3 linked regions of the Homo sapiens genome follow. The protein of the gene in region 3 interacts with the protein of the main gene of each other region in a biochemical or structural test. Each region holds a gene or a part of one and is shown on either strand. Other genes may lie near its edges.

Region 1 (7,344 bases), on a different chromosome or scaffold from region 3:
CTTTGTGGCCCCCACCAGAGGCTGGTCAGCCAGTTTGCAATGGCTCCTAGTGGCCGGCGTGGGAGTTGCCGGGAACTGAAAGCAGGTTTGCAGGATTGTGGGTAGTGGGGGCACTGGGCGGGGCAGAGGGTGAGGCAGAGCAAAGGGGTCATTGCCTGCTTTGGGGCTGCACAGGAGATATGAGGTCATTAATTCCATCATTATAAACTGCAAGCCTCCATTCCTCTAGATGAAACCCTCATCCCCTAAGGATCCTACTAAACTCAAACTTGGCCCCCCAAAGATGGGGCCACTGGAAGCATCTTGAATTATACTTCCTTCTTGGTCCCCACCTTCAAATGGGCAGACAGGGAGCTCACGGCACCTGCTGTATGCTTTGGTTGTTTCTCTGATGTGGGTGGCGAGGGTCAGGCAGGCCACATGGGCTGATACCCTGATCCTGTCTCTGGGGAGTGGGTCCCTGGCTTACGGACACAGTCTACCCCCATCCCGTGTCCCTGAGTCCTCACTTGGGAAGCAGGACCGGGGACGCTCCCAGCCCTGAATCGAACACACTGACGTGTGCTAAGTTCCTGTCCCTCTCTGGAGCTCAGTTTCCCCATCCGTACCTGGCAGGGGGAGGAGGTTAGACTGGGGCAGAGGTGCTGAAAACCTAGCTGAGCTTCAGAAGCCACTGGACAGCTTATTAAAAATAAAGATTCCAGGTCCCTGACTCTGGGACTTCTGATTTTGTAAGCCCCAGAGTGGGTTGGGGGTCTGTATTTTCCCAAGTCTCCTGGCTGATGTGATGTACCTCCAGAGCTGGGACACATGCTGAATGGATCGAAAGGCCAAAAACATCCATGATATGGTTCAATTTATTCAGTCCTAAGATAAGTATCCGTATGCTGGAAAATGTACCAGACCCTACCATTTTCATCCTTGACTTGTTGCTTTTGCCTTTCTGTAAGCTCCCAGAGGGCTGGGGCTGAGCCCTCTGCCACCATTAACAACAAGGATCATCAAAGCTAAGTGCAGTGAGCGCCTACTGCATGCCAGGCCCTGTGCTGAGGGTTTGCTGTGCAGCATTTCATGTACTCCTCAGAGCAATCCTCTGAGTTAGATACTTTGAGGAAACTGAGGCTCAGAATGCTTAAGTAACTTCCTCAAGGTCACTCAGCTAATAAGGGGCAGAATTAGAACTGGAAGTCTAGCCAGGTGCAGTGGCTCATGCCTATAATCCCAGCACTTTGGGAGGCCGAGGCGGGCGGATTGCCTGAGCTCAGGATTTCAAGACCAGCCTGGGTAACATGGTGAAACCCCATCTCTATTAAAAATACAAAAATTGCCAGGCATGGTGGTGGGCGCCTGTAGTCCCAGCTACTCGGGAGGCTGAGGCACGAGAGTCGCTTGAACCCAGGAGGTGGAGGTTGAAGTGAGGCTGGGATCGCGCCACTGCACTCCAGCCTGGGCAACAGAGCCAGACTCTGACTCCAAAAATAAAAATAAAAAATAAAGAACTGGAACTCTAGTCCAGAGTCCTTGCCCATAACTACATGCCATACTGCCTCTTAGGGCATGTTGTGGGACTACTGGCCTTTGAGGCCAGGTCTGCATGGCTCTGAGGCTAAGGTGTGGACACCACACTACCCAGCCTGGCAGAGAAGTGGCTGGTTGTGAGGGTCTCACTGCCCACCTCGAAAGCCCGTGGCTGAGTGAGGTCTCTGTCTCTTCAGGTGCGTACCCAGCTGTGCCCGACACCATGTACCTGCCCCTGGCCACCTCCCCGATGCCCGCTGGGAGTACCCCTGGTGCTGGATGGCTGTGGCTGCTGCCGGGTATGTGCACGGCGGCTGGGGGAGCCCTGCGACCAACTCCACGTCTGCGACGCCAGCCAGGGCCTGGTCTGCCAGCCCGGGGCAGGACCCGGTGGCCGGGGGGCCCTGTGCCTCTGTAAGCAGGTTTGCAGGACTGAGTGGGGGCGGGTGTGAGCGGGAGGTCAAGGCCGTGGTGTCCTGGATCAAAGTGCAGCCCTCCTCTCTCTACCTCCTTGGGTGCTCACTTCAGGTATCCCATCCATTCCAGCTGAACTTGGTGTCCCAAAGCCCACTCCCCACTCCCTCCTCTCCCTTCTTGGCCTCTGCTTAAACCATCTCACTACCCCAATAACCTTTCCCCATCCCTACCTGTCCAAATCATTGCCAACTTTCAAAGCCAAGTTCAAACAGCTTCTCCCCTGAGAAGCCCCCCCAGATTCTTCAAACCAGATGCCACCACTCCCTTCTCAGGATCCTTACAACACTTTGGGGAAAATAAAAGTGCAACCTTTTAGGGCATAATATGTGTCCAGAACTGTGCTAAGCACTTACTACACAAGTCACATCATCCTCACAATAACCCTATGATGGGAAGTACTTTCAGACCTATTTTATGAATGAGGAAACAGGTTCACCAGCATTAAGGGACATGCTTCATGTCACACGGCACGGGACCAGATCCAACGGGCTCTAAGGAACAGTTTATTCTGTCTTCTCCCATAGTGGGGGCCCTCGGAGCACTGCTGGGATCCTGGGTTTGCCATGTATTCAGCAGTCACCCGAGCATGTGACATTCCTCACCACTCTTCTAGGCCTTGGTATTCTCTGATGCTTCGGGGCAGGGCTTTGCAAGCTGGCTCCAGTGACTGGGTGCCAGAGAATTAGTTGTTGTGGGAGGGCTGTCCTGTGCATGGTAAGACTTCTAGCAGCATCCCCGAACTCCACCCACTGTATGCCAGCAGCACTCCCCATCCCCCAAGTCATGACAGTCTGTCTTCAGACAGTGCCAAATTTCCCCAGGGGGCAAAATCTCCAGTTGGGAACCATCACTTTAGAGAAATGCAAAGAGGCAAGAGATTGTTCTTCTTTTTTCTTTTTTAATAATAAGCCTTGTAGAACAATTTGCCTCTTTCATCTATGTGCATGTCACACTTTTATAAAAATAAGAACGAAAGAGAGAGAGAGAGAAGCTCATGAATCATTGATAATGAATTCATCTGTAGGAAAAGCCTTGTTAAAAAACAACAGGCCAGGCACAGTGACTCATGCCTATAATCCTATCAGTTTGGGAGACTGAGGCGGGACGACCACTTGAGCCCAGGAGTTCTAGTCCAGCCTTGGCAACATAGTAAGATCCTCTCTCTATCAAAAAAAAAAAAAAAAAATTAGCCGGGTGTGGTGGCACATGCCTGTGGTCCCAGCTACTTGAGAGGCTGAGGTGAGAGGCTCGCTTGAGCCTGGGTGTTTGAGGCTGCAGTGAGCCATGGTTGCGCCACTACATTCCAGCCCGGGCAACAGACCAAACCCTATCTCCAAAAAAAAAAAAAAAAAAAAAAAAAAGTAATAACTCCATGTGAAATGCTTTATTTACAAGTACTGTAAGGATAAGGAGGGTGATTCGTTACACTGACTGAGGGATGATTGCTTATGAAAATGTATCTGAAGAACAATTGAGATAAGTAACACTTCGCTTACAAAGCTGTTATTTACATTTGCTGTGACACGTGTAAACAGCACCCACAGAGTTTATTTTACACTTGCACAGCCCTTACCACGTGTAAGACACTGAGGGTTTCACAAATATAAACTCATTTAATCTCACAACCACATGAGGTAGGTACCCTTCTCTTATAAATGGAAAAAAGGGGTACAGAGAGGCTAAGCAACTTGCCCAAGGTCACACAGCTCATAAGCGGCAGAGCTGAGATTTGAACTCAGGGAGCTGGCTCCACAAGCTCCATTGCTCAACTGCCTGACATGCAGCAGTTGATTAGTACATAGGCTGTGATTGTTAATAACTGTATTAAGGGATTTTTCTTATTCCATCTTAATTCAGACTTCAAACACCTGCAGGCCAAAGGCGTACTTGGGTCCCTGGTCCTTCCTGCAACTTCCCACCTTGGTCTGTCAACATGATGGGTGCTCAACAGTGTTTAATGATTTAAACTGAATTTAGAGGCCGGGAACTGGTGAACCCCAAAGAGTCCAGCTAAGACATCACAAAGGCTCAGTCTAGGGCTTTGCAGGGAACATACTGCCAAAAACCTCTCCCATCACTTACTCGTTGAACGCTCTTCTCTAAGGGCCAACTCTGAGCTGTGAGATGTGCTGCAGATTCACCATCGTGATAACAGCGCATCCAATGCCGGGATCCTGATCTTCCGCCCCCCAGAACGGCCTCCCCAGTCTGTTGAGAGCACCTCCATCCTTCTCATGGCTCAGACTCAAGACCTGGGAGTCGTTCTAGAGGTCTCTCTATCTCTCTCTCTTTTTTTTTTTTTTTTTTTTGAGATGGAGTCTCACTCTTTCACCCAGGCTGGTGTGCAGTGGCAGGATCTCAGCTCACTGTAACCCCATCTCTTGCGTTCAAGCGATTCTCACGCCTCAGCCTCCCAAGTAGCTGGGATTACAGACACATACCACCATGCCTCGCTAATTTTTGTATTTTAGTATTTCAGTAGAGACGGGGTTTCACCATGTTGGCCAGGCTGGTCTGGAACTCCTGACCTCAAGTGATCCACCCGCCTCGGCCTCCCTAAGTGCTGGGATTATAGGTATGAGCCACCACAGCCGGTCTAGACATCTCTCTTTTCTCACCTCCCACATACCACCCACCAGCAAATTCATCGTGTATTTCCAGCATCCGACACTCCCATCCCTTCTGGTCTGAGCCCCGTCATCATTGGCCTGGATTTTGCAGTAGCCCCATAATCATCTCCCTCCTTCTGTCGTTGCCCCTGGTCTATTCACAACACAGCAGTCAGAGAGCTCCTGGGAAGTCATAAGCCAGATCACCTCCCTCCTCTGCCCCAAGCCTTCTGGTGGCTTCCCATCTCAGAGGAAAAGCCAAAGTCCCCACAGTGGCCTACAAGGCCCCAACAGGATCCTGTTCATGCTTCCTCTCTGACCTCCTCTCCTCCTGCTCTCTGCTCCAGCCACATTGGCCCCTTGCTGTTCCTTAAATACCCCAGGCACACTCGTGCCTCAGGGCCTTTGCACTGGCTGTTCCCTCTACCAGCATTATTTCTCAGCAAGGCCTTCCCTGCTGGAGGATTAGATGAGCTAGGGGACTTACAGCATTTTGCCCCAAGCCTGGCACATAGCAGATGCTACGTGGAAGCATAACCCTCTCCTGTTTATTGAGCATCTGCTATGTGCCAGGCTTGGGGCAAAATGCTGTAAGTCCCCTAGCTCATCTAATCCCCCAGCAGCCCTGTGAGCCGGGTACCAAGGCTCAGAGAGGCAAAATAACTTGCCCCAGGCCCCACAAGTGGGAGCCAGAGTTGGAACCTAAGTATGTGTGGTTTTGGTTCTGAAACCCCTGTGTGTGTACAGACCTACTGGAAGGTTTTCTCAGAAGATCTGGGAGAACTTGTTTGCTAATGAGTCCTTTCCCCAGACGTAGCTCAGTGGCCACCCAGGTCTCACACACACGCTGTTTCCCGTCTGCACTTCCTGAGCAGCTCACACGCTTCACCAGCGCTCTTACTTCATTCTGTCTTGGAGATGATGCCCTCACACCCGTCCCCCTTTCCCAAGCCCATGAGTCCCTCAAGGCAGGAACTGTCCTCTTTCTGTCTGGGAGCACAGTGGTTGGCACACAGGCGGGAAACAGTAAATATCTCTGGAATGATAAGGAGTAGGGCTATTTTATCAGGGTCTCTCATGTGCCAAGGCTTATGCCAGCTATTCACTGAAGGGGCATTCCTACAGTACTGTGTGTCGCACCTAGGCTCTGAGCCCACCGGAGGGTGCAGAGACGCACACTGGCCGCCCCAGCCCTCAAGGAGTTCATGTCCAGTGGAGGAAGTGGCAATAACACCCATATCTTGAGGGCTTCATTGAAAGAGTGTTCCCTGAGCACCTAGGCCATGCCTAGCACTGTGTGCTAGAGGGTACGGACATGTCATCCCATGGAACCTGAAGTTACGATTACTGAGCTCATCATTGCTGTAGTTCAGGCCACTCAGAGAAGTTAAGTAACTTACTCAAAGACACACAGCCAGCAAGTTAAGCCCTGACCTGACAGTGATGACAGCACAAGTGGACAACGACTTTGTTGCATGAAATCTCAGCGTGTATAGAATACTTAAACTTTATTAATATATAGTAACTATACTAATGATAATAACAGAGTAGCTAGGACCTATGGAAGGTCTCTTTTATGTTGTGATCATTACGCCTATCATTCCGAGTAGTCTCTACCACCCTGGAAAATAAGTACCATTATATCCCAGCTTGCAAATGTGGAAACTGAGGCAAGAAGAAGTGAAATCACTTGGCCCAGGTTCACAGCTAAGAAAGGGCAGAGTTTGGGGGGTCAATCCAGGCCTGTCTTCTTGCAATCCCTGTGCCGGGATCCAGGGTGCCCCAGCAGGCTGGTGGAGGGCTGGGGAGAGGTGCATATCCTGGGCTGGAGCCCTGGGCAGGGCCCAGCTACTGTGAGGCAGCTGCCTCAGGCAGCGGGATCTGGGCAGCTCTGCAGAGAAGGCTGTGCCGCTTTGCGGGTCACCGATGGGGGTGCGGTTTTTCCTCCGCAGTGGCAGAGGACGACAGCAGCTGTGAGGTGAACGGCCGCCTGTATCGGGAAGGGGAGACCTTCCAGCCCCACTGCAGCATCCGCTGCCGCTGCGAGGACGGCGGCTTCACCTGCGTGCCGCTGTGCAGCGAGGATGTGCGGCTGCCCAGCTGGGACTGCCCCCACCCCAGGAGGGTCGAGGTCCTGGGCAAGTGCTGCCCTGAGTGGGTGTGCGGCCAAGGAGGGGGACTGGGGACCCAGCCCCTTCCAGCCCAAGGTGAGCGCAGCGGTGGTCCAGGTCAGGGCAGGACTGCCTGGGGGCGCCAAGGGCCACCTAGGGGGTGGGGTGGGGGGCGGCTTCCTGGGTACCAGGACCCAGGGACACATCAGAAGCTGGGAGGGGCGGAGGCTGAGGAGGGAGATAAGAAAGAGGAGTGGAGGGCCGGGCGCTGTGGTTCACCCTTGTAATCCCAGTACGTTGGGAGGCCAAGACGGGCGGATCACCTGAGGTTAGGAATTCGAAACCAGCCTGGCTGACATAGGAAAACCCCGTCTCTACTAAAAATTCAAAAATTAGCCTAGCATGGTGGCGGGCATCTGTAGTCCCAGCTACTTGGGAGGCTGAGGCAGGAGAATCGCTTGAACCCGGGAGGCAGAGGTTGCAGTGAGCCCAGATCACACCACTGCACTCCAGCCTGGCCGACAAGCACGAAACTTCATCTCAAAAAGAGGAAAAAAGAAAGAGGAGTGGAGGGTCACCAGGCCTCCCTCTTTAAAACCAATAAACAAAAAGCCACTGCCTTTGAGATG
Region 2 (7,000 bases), on a different chromosome or scaffold from region 3:
CAGGTGGTCCTTGCGCCACACTGGAAGAACTTGACCCCAGCCATATTGTTGAGGCAACACTTGAGAAGGCTCTGTGAGCCATCATTAGCCCCGGAGAACATGGTCATTTGTCTCCCTCCTACTCTGTCAAAACTCTAGTCTGTTTTGGGTGTGTGAGGCGGAAGAGGGACCAAAGAAGGCAGGTTCCACCTTTCCAGGGCGCAGCTCCTTAGTGCAAGCATCTCTAGCTCCATAGAGTTGGGGGTGGAATTTACTGGAAAAGCAAAGGTTGGGAGAGGGACAGGAAAGGTGCCCTGCACCCCTGAGCTACTGAGAAAGGACAGGGCAGAGTCATGTCATCCATCACCCTAGCATCAACCTGGGCTTGCCTCTTCTGCCCCCAACTTCTTTCAATCAAGACATCCTTAGGATAAGGGATCCGACTTACCTAGGAGCGTCCTAGGGGCCTCTGCTGGGTCTTCTGGAGTGGAGCTTCCACCTCCTCCGTCCTCCATGATGGGGATGGAGTAGATGGCCCCACGGGATTCACTCTCTGTGGCTTCCTGAGGCAGCTGCAGTTCCTCCAGGGTCTCTGTCACTGTGACGATAGCCTCTAGTCCATCAGAGGCTGGGTTGGAGGCTGGGTTGGAGGCCTCAGGGATGGCAGAAGGCTGGGCCGAGTCTGTGGCAGGAGGAAAGTATTGATGCGAGCCTGAATAGGTAGCTCTGCCCTCCCAGGTCACAGCTTGCACCATGGAATTCTCTCAATTCTCTCACATCTTCCCTGTGGAGCACCTACTGGGGCCCAGGGAGCATCCCAGAACTTCGTCACTCATTTCTCAAGCATTCATCAAGTGCCTACAGTGTGTCATGCCAAGCATTCCCCTGGGCACTGAGGATACAGTGCAGAACAAAATAGCAAACCTCCTACCCTCAAGGGAAATTATATTCTAGAACAGATGACAAACAAACATATATTATAATCTTACAAGATAAAGAACACTTGAGCAGAGTTAGAAGATGGAGTGATGGAAAATACTACTTTGGAGTGGTCAGGAAAGGCTCAGGTGAGAGATATTCCCTAGGGGGAGGGGCTGGAGCCAGCAGGATGGATGAAATAGCTTTACCACCTTGTGATCTTGGGCTTGGGGCAAGGTGTGAGGTGTCCCAGGTATCCCCAAATTCTTTTATTTTTTAGACAGAGTCTCCTTCTGTCACCCAGGCTGGAGTGCAGTGGCACGATCCCAGCTCATTGCAACCTTCGCCTCCTGGATTCAAGCGGTTCTCCCGTCTCAGCCTCCCAAGTAGCTGGGACTACAGGCATGTGCCACCGTAACTGGCTAATTTTTGTATTTTTAGTAGAGACAGGGTTTCCCCGTGTTTGCCAGGCTGATCTCGAACTCCTGGCCTCAAGTGGTCTTGGCCTCCCAAAGTGCTGGGATTACAGGCATGAGCCACTGCACCGAGCCTCCAAAATTCTTGAAATAGAAGGGGAGAGGCTGTCATCCCCTCAGGATAGCTGGAGGGCAGAGTGCAGGAATAACTTCAGGCATCACCTGAGGATCTCAGTGGTGGGGCAAGTAGGCAAGGGAAAAGGCCACCTCCTTCTGGGACCTACTCCTTTCAAATAACCAGAAGTTTAGAATGGTTTACTTGTCCTCTGGGGAAGGGAGCCAAGAGCAGAAAACCAATGAAGTGAAGGTGGAATTGGGCTAAGAAAAGTCCTGAGGGCTGTCTGTGCTCAGCCAGGCAAGACAGGACAGTGAGTCCCTGCCCTCATCACCTGCTCCAGTGAGCCTTACTCCTCACCAGACCTTGTGTCCTTGCTGCCTGTGTCCTCCACCAATCGTAGTCCCAACTGTAGTCATATTCCCCCTCCCCTGCCCCTCCTCATGATCCAGGCCATTTCTTTCCAAAACAGTGCTTGGCTTGGCACACAATCATAGCCAGCACACAGAAGTTTTAGCTATTACTATTATTATTATTACTACTACTACTACTACTACTACTACCCCTGTTCCAGGAGGTCTTTTCAGATGGACCTGTCTTCCTATGGACTTTTACTTCCCCACCCCTCCCCAACCCCAGCCAAATATGTCCACAGATCTGTCCAAATGGAAGTAATGCTTTTCTCTCAGTCTCTCCTCATCCTGGGAGTGAGGCATCTTGTCTTCCCTTTGCTGGGGGTTCCCATGGCAAAAGCTGTGTCTTCATCCTTCAGACCAAGTGCTCCCTGAGGTTCAAGGCTGTGTCTGCTCCTTCCATTTCTGCTTCCAGCTCTTGTAACAGTATTTCAGGCTTAAAACTGGGGAAGGACCGAGACACCGCATGGCAATGCCTCTCTTATTGTCGGTCACCCTTGGCCTGGGCCTTTTGCATCTGAGAGTCCCAGAAACTGCCTCCCGCTCCAGCTCCCAACATAAGATATGGGCAGGTTTGGGTGCAGTGGCTCACACCTATAAATCCCAGCACTTCGGGAGTCCAAGATAGGTAGATTGCTTGAGCTCAGGAGTTCAAGACCAGCCTGGGCATGTGGTGAAACCCCATCTCTACAAAAATTACAAAAATTTGCTAGACATGGTGGCATAAGCCTGTGGTCCCACCTACTCCGGAGGTTGAAGTGGAAGGATCCCCTGAGCCCAGGGAGGTTGAGGCTACAATGAACCATGATCACACCACTGCACTCCAGCCTGGGGGACGGAGTGAGACCCTGTCTCAAAAAAAGAAACAAGCCATAAGATGTGGGCAGAAAGCTATCTCTATTCCCAACTGTACTTAAGGTCTTGCTCCCTTTTGGGGGAATTGTATCCATCCACCAGTATTTGGTAGTTAAAGATCTGACACCTTCTTAAGCTGTAGTTTCTGGAAATCCTCCAGAGGGCTCCTGAGGGCATTTGGTTGTTGACTGGAAGAACTTGGGCAGATTACTCATTGAATTCACAGAATGTTGGTCGTCTTTGCTCTGCCAATAAGCTGACAGGAGATGGGAGCTTATTCAGCAGCCCAGCTGGAGCAAACAAGGCATGGACTACTGGTGGGAAGGCAGATAAGGAGAGGCCAAAAGGTGACTACTCCTTGGGCCAAACAGCTGACAGACACCACACCAGAGGGCATGCCCAGAATTAGAACCCTAGATGACAAGCTGGACTTCACCCACGACCACTTCAGGCAAATGGCAAAGCCCTGAGCTAAACTGATCAGACTGGGGTAGGACTTTTAGGACTCAACTCTGCCTTTCTGAGATTGGTCTCAGCTTCTGCAGGGAGGTGGGCTCACCTCGGAAGCAGTAGACGTTGAAGCGGCTGTGCTTATTGGGGAAGCCAGTCTGGTTGGGGAAGAGGAAGAGAGTCTTGACACCAGGCAAGCCCCCACCACAGCGCTGGCTGGGTGTGACGATGGGGTAGCGCACACTGCCATCAGCTAGCCACCCTGGGCTGCAGTGGTCCAGGCCACCATCCCAGGCTGCATACAGTTGGCCCGTGGTGGCAATCTCTGCACCCCGCTCCTGGCAGTACGCCCGTGCTTCCTCCAATGTCAGCTTCTCTGGAGGGTCACCCAGGAACAGTTCTCCTGGGTGGAGAAGAGAAGGCTGGGTTATCAGGCAGCTGGTAGCTCCTTCCACTCTGGTCTCCCATGGGAACCCTGGGCAAGCTTCTCCAGTTCCCTCATCTGTGGCAGGGAGTCAACTACTCTACTTCATAGGATCATAGTCTGAATAGAACCTCAAGATGGATATTAGAGCTCAAAGAGATGGGGCCCAAACTTCTTGTTCTGCAGAGTCATGCACAGAGTCCACCTGGCAGGTGGTAGATGAGTTAAACTCGGTATCCTGCTGCCTGGCTGAGACTTTGGTCATGAGCTTGCCTCTGTGACAGTGTTTGGAGAGAGGGACACCAATTGTCTCCTTACTCCTGCTTGCCCCCTTAAACTCAGGAGGGATAGTAAGGTCCTGCAGAGGCCCCGGGAGGACCTATGGGCAGCATGGGAGTAGGAAATTGTCCCCTGGGAACCTCTCACTCCTAATCACCATTTAGGTCTTCAGCATAACAGTACACATCATAGAGGTCATCCGGGTCCACCACACCATAGTTCCGGACCCCGGGGAAGCCATCCATGTCTCCGTAACAGGCCTCTCGTGGGGTCTGGATGGGATACCTAGGGAGGAAGGACAGAATCACTTAGTACAGATGCTTTCACCAGGGAGCCAGCCCATATTGATTCTATTGAACCCCACTGCCACCACAGTGCAGACACTTGCTGACAGCTGGCTGTCCTTCTAGCACTGCAGGGATGCACATGCTCAGGGTCCTCACCTCCCCTCCTCAGACCAGCCTCATCCCCCAGAGGCAAAAAGCCCTGCATGTCCAGCCTGACACAGCAGGCAGCACCCAGCAGAAGGGGGGCCATGGCCACCTCAGGGGCCAATAGAAGCCCCAATCCACAGCCCCTGCCCACCTCACGGTCTGATCCGACAGCCAGCCAGCATCACATTGCTCATAGCCCCCAAGGTAGGCGGCATAGAGCTGCTCCGGGGTGGCGATGTGGGCTCCAATGCGGGCACAGGCCTCCTGGGCCCCAGAAAAGGAGAAAGCATAGCGGGCAGAGCCCTCTCGGTAGAGAAAGACGACCCCTGTGGGGCAGAGAGGACCCCTGAGCCAGGTGAGCACCCAGCACGCTGGCCTCCCCTCACCCTCCTTGTCACTCCTCTGTACACAAGGGTAAATAAAGTTCAATTGTGCTCACTCTACAGCATGAGGGACTTAAGTTAGATTGTGGGTAGAATGTCCTCCACCTGAAGAGAGAAAGGAGACAACAAAGGCCCGTGTCTCCTCACTCTTTTTCCAACCCAGGCTGCGCCTTCCAGCTACCTTTGCTTCCCTCTCACACTGTGGGATCCCCGAAGGCAAGAGTCCTCCCTTCCCTCCCTCCCTCCCTCCCTCTGGAACCTCCCTGCCCTCTCACCTTTGACCTTGACCTCCACAGCGTCGCTGCTGTCATCGATGCCGTGCTGGACCTCACAGCGATAGATACCTGAGTCGTTGGGGCGCAGCTCGCTCAGCGCCAGGGAGACGTCGGTGAGCGACGCTGGGTACGCAGGCAGTGCCACGCGGAACCGGTAGGCCTCGTTCACCTTGACGCGCACTCCCCGCGCCACCAGCACCTCTGCCTCCCGGCCCCGGGACAGGAAAGTCCACTTGACCCGCGGAGAGCCCAGCACAGCCCGGCGGCTCGGCGGTGGCCGCAGGTAGTGGACGTGGCAAGGGATGGTGAGGGCGCCGCCGAGCACGCCCTGCAGTGGCGCGTCGCCCGCGATGCGCACGCGAAAAGCGCGGTCCTCTGTGAACGGGTGGAGCCGGCTGGAACTTAACGCTGTCGACCCTCAGAGTCCCACCCGGTGGCCTCCAAGCCCCGCTCCAGGATCCCTCCTTCCGGCCCCAGGATTCCCCGGCCCCCCTAGGACCAGGGGCCAGGGGCCAGGGGCCAGGGTCCTGCAGCCCTACCTCTAGGTCCTCCAGGACCACCCCGACGGTCTCCAGACCCATCCCCCAAAGTCTCCCAGTCAATTCAGCCCCCAGGATTCCTTGCCCTGCTCTCAGAGTCTTCCACTTCCTCTCCAAAATTCCTAGACCACACCCCAGGGTCCTCCAACCTCGCCCCCTGAGTCCTCCAGCCCAGTTTCCCAGTCTGCTCCCTTTAGGGCCTCCTTCAGGGTTTCTCCCAGTTCCACCCCTTTCCCACCTCCTAGCTTCAGGATCCCCTATCCTCCACCTTAGGGGCCCAAAGCCTTGCACCCAGTGCCCTTCCCTAGTCCTGCCCCATGATTTCTCCAACCCACCAGATGCTCACAGCTCAGCCCTTATTTCCAAGTGTTCCAGCCTGGACGCTTCCCCACAGCCCTCCAATTCTCTCTCTTCCTGGGGCCCCTAAGCCTGGAAGCAGTTGGTTAGGGCTGAACAAGACAGAGACGGTGACCCCAAGTGGGGTTGCTTACCTGAGCTGTCTCCTTCCAGAACATCTGCTAAAGCTGCAGGAGCCTGGGCCAGGACCAGGGCTGCCAGCAGGGGCAGGAACAGCTGGGCCATGCTGCAGGCTGACAGAGGGACATGAGAAGGAAAGATGGGGTTAGACTTCAGGATGGACTTCCCCCCTGCTCCCTACCACACCCATGTGGGTTCACACATATCCTGGCTCCAGAAGTCCCCTACCTTCACATCACCATGGACTCTCTGTTTCTGATCCCCATCTTCCCAGCAAGTGATTTCTTCTCAGAACCAAAACCCGAGTCCTAGTCAACTCACTGTGTGACCTAAGCCAAGCTCCTTACCTTCTCTGAGCCTTTATTTTCTTACTTATAAAAAAGCATCATCATTACTATCTCATGAGTTGAGATAGGACCATGTGCTTTGAGAGTGTTTAGTATCTTAAAACTCCTGTACAAATGCATAGCACCAGGCAGACAGTAGGAGCTCAGTTTACAGCATGAATGGTGGGTGCTCTTATACTCAGAATTCCATCTGCTCCTCCCAGTGCCAGACTCCTTCCTCGAACCCAGAGCCTTCTCCCATAGTATCTCTTTAGCCTCTTCTGCCTTCTAGACTGTCCCTGCCTCCAGGGACACCATACTCACCTGGCCTTTTCCAGGAGGGCCTCCTAGACCGAACGCAAGTAAGCACAGCTTCTCCTGAGCCCACCCTCTCCTCTACTTCCTCCCCACCATTATTTGTAAGGAAACTCCTCTCTTTACTCCCCAACATTCTCCATCCCCCTTCCTTGGCTGCCTCCTCCCTTCTTCTTCCCAGCCTCTCCTTTCTGCCTGGCACGGGCTTTCCCACCGGAACTCTTGGCTCAGAAATCAGTTGGGACAAAGCCCCTGTCTCTGCCAGTCTGGCCTCTATCCAGCCCCTCCCTTCCCCCACCCTACCTTTTGTGAAAGCCTTGGGCTGGAGGGTGGACTAAGGGGGGGGAGAATAAATGGGAGGGGCTACCCCTTCCTACCCCTGGCTATCAGAAGCTCTAGAAC
Region 3 (3,994 bases):
TGGGGTTTGATCCAGGCCCATTTGCGTTTTGCAGGAGGCCTGTGACCACCTCCCATTAGCAGAAGGATGGCTCCATTTGAGACAAGGCAAACTTTGTCATGCTCTGTTGCTCATGTGGCAAAGATCCTCCACTCAACCAGTTTGCCCCTGGCCCCCTGCTGATTAAAACACAACCAGTAGCAGCGAGGGATAGAATTTGGAGTTTGAAAATCATACTCTTGAGGAGGCATCTGTGAGCTTTCTAGGGTCCTGGAAATGGGTCCAGTTTGGCTTTTTTTAGAGGAGATTTCAACTAAATTCCACAGATTTTTTTTTTTTTGAGCACCTACTGTATGCTAAGCACAGGCCCTGACCTCCAGTAGCTGAAGGTCTTACATGTCCAAGAAAATGCAGTGTACAATCAGATGCTAGATTAGGAGTTATCTTCAAGAATAAACATCTATTGAGCACCTACTACATGCTAGCATATTAATAGTAAATGAGATTATGTATGTCAGGAGTCACAAACTCCAACAGCTCCATGTGTCAGGCAGGTAGCACAAATGAGTAAAGCAGGCAGGGGCAGACAGTGGGGAACTGTGGAGTCTGTGCGGAATCAGAGCACATGCCTCATTTACAGGAGACACTTTCTTCTCACCTTCAGATAATTATTGGCGGGCAAGATTAGGGGCCTAGGCAGCTGCCATGGTTCACACCTGTCATCCCAGCACTCTGGGAGGCCAAGGCAGGAGAACTGCTTGAGCGCAGGAGTTTGAGACCAGCCTGGGCAACATAGTGAGACTCTATCTCTACAAAAAAATTTTAAAAAACATTAGCTACACATGACGGCGCATACCTGTAGTCCCAGCTACTGGGGAGGGTGAGCAGAGAGGATCGCTTGAGCCCAGGAGTTTAAGGCTGCAGTGAGCCGTGTTCATGCCGCTGCATTCCAGACTGGGTGACAGAGTGAGACCTGGTCTCAAAAAAAAAGAATGGGGCCTGGTGTTGTTAGATATTCTATATTAGATATTCTAGTTTTTTTAAAGGAAGCCAGAAATCTGTACTTCTGTGTGACTTTTTGGATGTTTACATGTTGGCAAGTTATTCAGATTTAAAGACAAAACAAAACAAACTTGTGAGAGTCAAATAAAACCCATCTGTGGGCCTGACAGGACTGGATATATCCTGTTTTGCCACCTCTGGTACATGGAATGTGCTTAGTTTGATGCTTGTGTTAAGTGGAGTTATTGTTTTTAATAATAGCATATGTTATCTGACTTAATGCTCACTGCAAGCCCTAGAAGGTTGATAATCTTTATCCTCATCTTAGAGATGAGCAAACAGGGAATAAAAGAGCTTATTTCACAGCCATTTCCCTTCTTCCACTCCCAGAGGGGGCTCTTCTGGGCTTTTGTTGTGTTTTGGTTTTGTTTTTGTTTTCTTTTCTTCAATCAGCTCAGATTGAAACAATTGAATTTTTTTTTTTTTTTTTTTGAGACAGAGTCTCCCTCTGTCGCCCAGGCTGGAGTGCAGTGGCGCGATCTTGGCTCACTGCAAGCTCCGCCTACTGGGTTCACACCATTCTCCTGCCTCAGCCTCCCGAGTAGCTGGGACTACAGGCGCCTACCACCACGCCCGGCTAATTTTTTGTATTTTTAGTAGAGACGAGGTTTCACCATGTTAGCCAGGATGGTCTTGATCTCCTGACTTCGTGATCTGCCCGTCTCGGCCTCCCAAAGTGCTGGGATTACAGGCGTGAGCCACCGCGCCCCGCCACAGTTGAGTTTTTTTTTTGGCGGGGGGACAAGGTCTTGCTCTATCACCCAGGCTAGAGGCACAATCATAGCTCACTGCAGCCTCGAACTCCTGGGCTTAAGCGACCCTCCCACGTCAGCCTCCTAAGTAGCTTGGACTACAGGAATGTACCACTATACCCAGCTAATTTAAATATGTTTTTCGTAGAAATGGGGGTCTCTCTATGCTGCCCAAGCTGGTCTCGAACTCCTGGGCTCAAGCAATCCTCCTGCCTCAGCCTTTCAAAGCTCTCTTCTCGTTTAAAAGCTTCTTCCCTATGCCAGGCAGAAATTCAAAGTTCCCAGGAACCTTCTGTGTGCCAGAATGTCAGGATAAGGGGGTCACGGTCTCTTCTTTCTCTATCCCAGGTCACAGCTACTTCTTCAAGGGTGCCTATTACCTGAAGCTGGAGAACCAAAGTCTGAAGAGCGTGAAGTTTGGAAGCATCAAATCCGACTGGCTAGGCTGCTGAGCTGGCCCTGGCTCCCACAGGCCCTTCCTCTCCACTGCCTTCGATACACCGGGCCTGGAGAACTAGAGAAGGACCCGGAGGGGCCTGGCAGCCGTGCCTTCAGCTCTACAGCTAATCAGCATTCTCACTCCTACCTGGTAATTTAAGATTCCAGAGAGTGGCTCCTCCCGGTGCCCAAGAATAGATGCTGACTGTACTCCTCCCAGGCGCCCCTTCCCCCTCCAATCCCACCAACCCTCAGAGCCACCCCTAAAGAGATACTTTGATATTTTCAACGCAGCCCTGCTTTGGGCTGCCCTGGTGCTGCCACACTTCAGGCTCTTCTCCTTTCACAACCTTCTGTGGCTCACAGAACCCTTGGAGCCAATGGAGACTGTCTCAAGAGGGCACTGGTGGCCCGACAGCCTGGCACAGGGCAGTGGGACAGGGCATGGCCAGGTGGCCACTCCAGACCCCTGGCTTTTCACTGCTGGCTGCCTTAGAACCTTTCTTACATTAGCAGTTTGCTTTGTATGCACTTTGTTTTTTTCTTTGGGTCTTGTTTTTTTTTTCCACTTAGAAATTGCATTTCCTGACAGAAGGACTCAGGTTGTCTGAAGTCACTGCACAGTGCATCTCAGCCCACATAGTGATGGTTCCCCTGTTCACTCTACTTAGCATGTCCCTACCGAGTCTCTTCTCCACTGGATGGAGGAAAACCAAGCCGTGGCTTCCCGCTCAGCCCTCCCTGCCCCTCCCTTCAACCATTCCCCATGGGAAATGTCAACAAGTATGAATAAAGACACCTACTGAGTGGCCGTGTTTGCCATCTGTTTTAGCAGAGCCTAGACAAGGGCCACAGACCCAGCCAGAAGCGGAAACTTAAAAAGTCCGAATCTCTGCTCCCTGCAGGGCACAGGTGATGGTGTCTGCTGGAAAGGTCAGAGCTTCCAAAGTAAACAGCAAGAGAACCTCAGGGAGAGTAAGCTCTAGTCCCTCTGTCCTGTAGAAAGAGCCCTGAAGAATCAGCAATTTTGTTGCTTTATTGTGGCATCTGTTCGAGGTTTGCTTCCTCTTTAAGTCTGTTTCTTCATTAGCAATCATATCAGTTTTAATGCTACTACTAACAATGAACAGTAACAATAATATCCCCCTCAATTAATAGAGTGCTTTCTATGTGCAAGGCACTTTTCACGTGTCACCTATTTTAACCTTTCCAACCACATAAATAAAAAAGGCCATTATTAGTTGAATCTTATTGATGAAGAGACTGATGGCTCAAGAGAAGTGATTTTTCCAGGGTCCCATAGCTATTAGGGACCTACAAGGCCAAAGGATAGCCTAGCAGAGGAGCTTTAGCTCTCAAACCAGAATCTCACCACCCTCCGCCACCCTCAAAAACACCCCCACCACCTTCAAAACCGCTCCTGCTACCCTCCACCACCCCCAAAACCACGCTGGGTAAACACAGCTAAGGGAGAAATACTGTGCTTGCTTCTAAACACAGCTGGTATTAATGGATAAGCTCCTTACTCCTTCCTACCAGTCTACCCACTCCTAATCTCCTACATAGAAATTCTGGAGCTACTGCTGAACAGAAATTGAAGGCCTGGGGTTTTTCTGAGGCCCTTTCTGGCTCCGATAGTCTGATTGATAGTATATATATTGCTTCTGGCCTCTTATGATGGGGCTGGTGAGGAAGGTGCGTAAGGAGTGAACTCTACAGGTGACCTCCTCAGTGAGCCTGATGTCATTGTTTCTATCTCTTTT

Evidence for each region.
Region 1: of the proteins of MMP2 (region 3) and CCN5, one has a biochemical effect on the other in vitro, tested with the Homo sapiens proteins (one study listed by BioGRID).
Region 2: of the proteins of MMP2 (region 3) and BCAN, one has a biochemical effect on the other in vitro, tested with the Homo sapiens proteins (one study listed by BioGRID).

Annotation. Positions count from the first base shown.
Region 1 is NC_000020.11:44,718,182-44,725,525, forward strand, and holds part of CCN5 (CCN family member 5 isoform 1 precursor), read left to right. Parts: intron 1-1,715; coding exon 1,716-1,932; coding exon of another isoform or gene 1,933-1,940; intron 1,941-6,556; coding exon 6,557-6,811; intron 6,812-7,344.
Region 2 is NC_000001.11:156,645,117-156,652,116, reverse strand, and holds part of BCAN (brevican core protein isoform 1 precursor), read right to left. Parts: exon of another isoform or gene 6,735-7,000; coding exon of another isoform or gene 6,608-6,734; intron 6,382-6,607; exon of another isoform or gene 6,071-6,381; coding exon of another isoform or gene 6,063-6,070; coding exon 5,972-6,062; exon of another isoform or gene 5,317-5,971; coding exon 4,942-5,316; intron 4,610-4,941; coding exon 4,435-4,609; intron 4,135-4,434; coding exon 4,007-4,134; intron 3,550-4,006; coding exon 3,256-3,549; intron 662-3,255; coding exon 428-661; intron 1-427. UniProt on the Homo sapiens protein: May play a role in the terminally differentiating and the adult nervous system during postnatal development. Could stabilize interactions between hyaluronan (HA) and brain proteoglycans.
Region 3 is NC_000016.10:55,503,198-55,507,191, forward strand, and holds the end of MMP2 (72 kDa type IV collagenase isoform 1 preproprotein), read left to right. Parts: intron 1-2,141; coding exon 2,142-2,245; 3' UTR 2,246-3,494; downstream 3,495-3,994.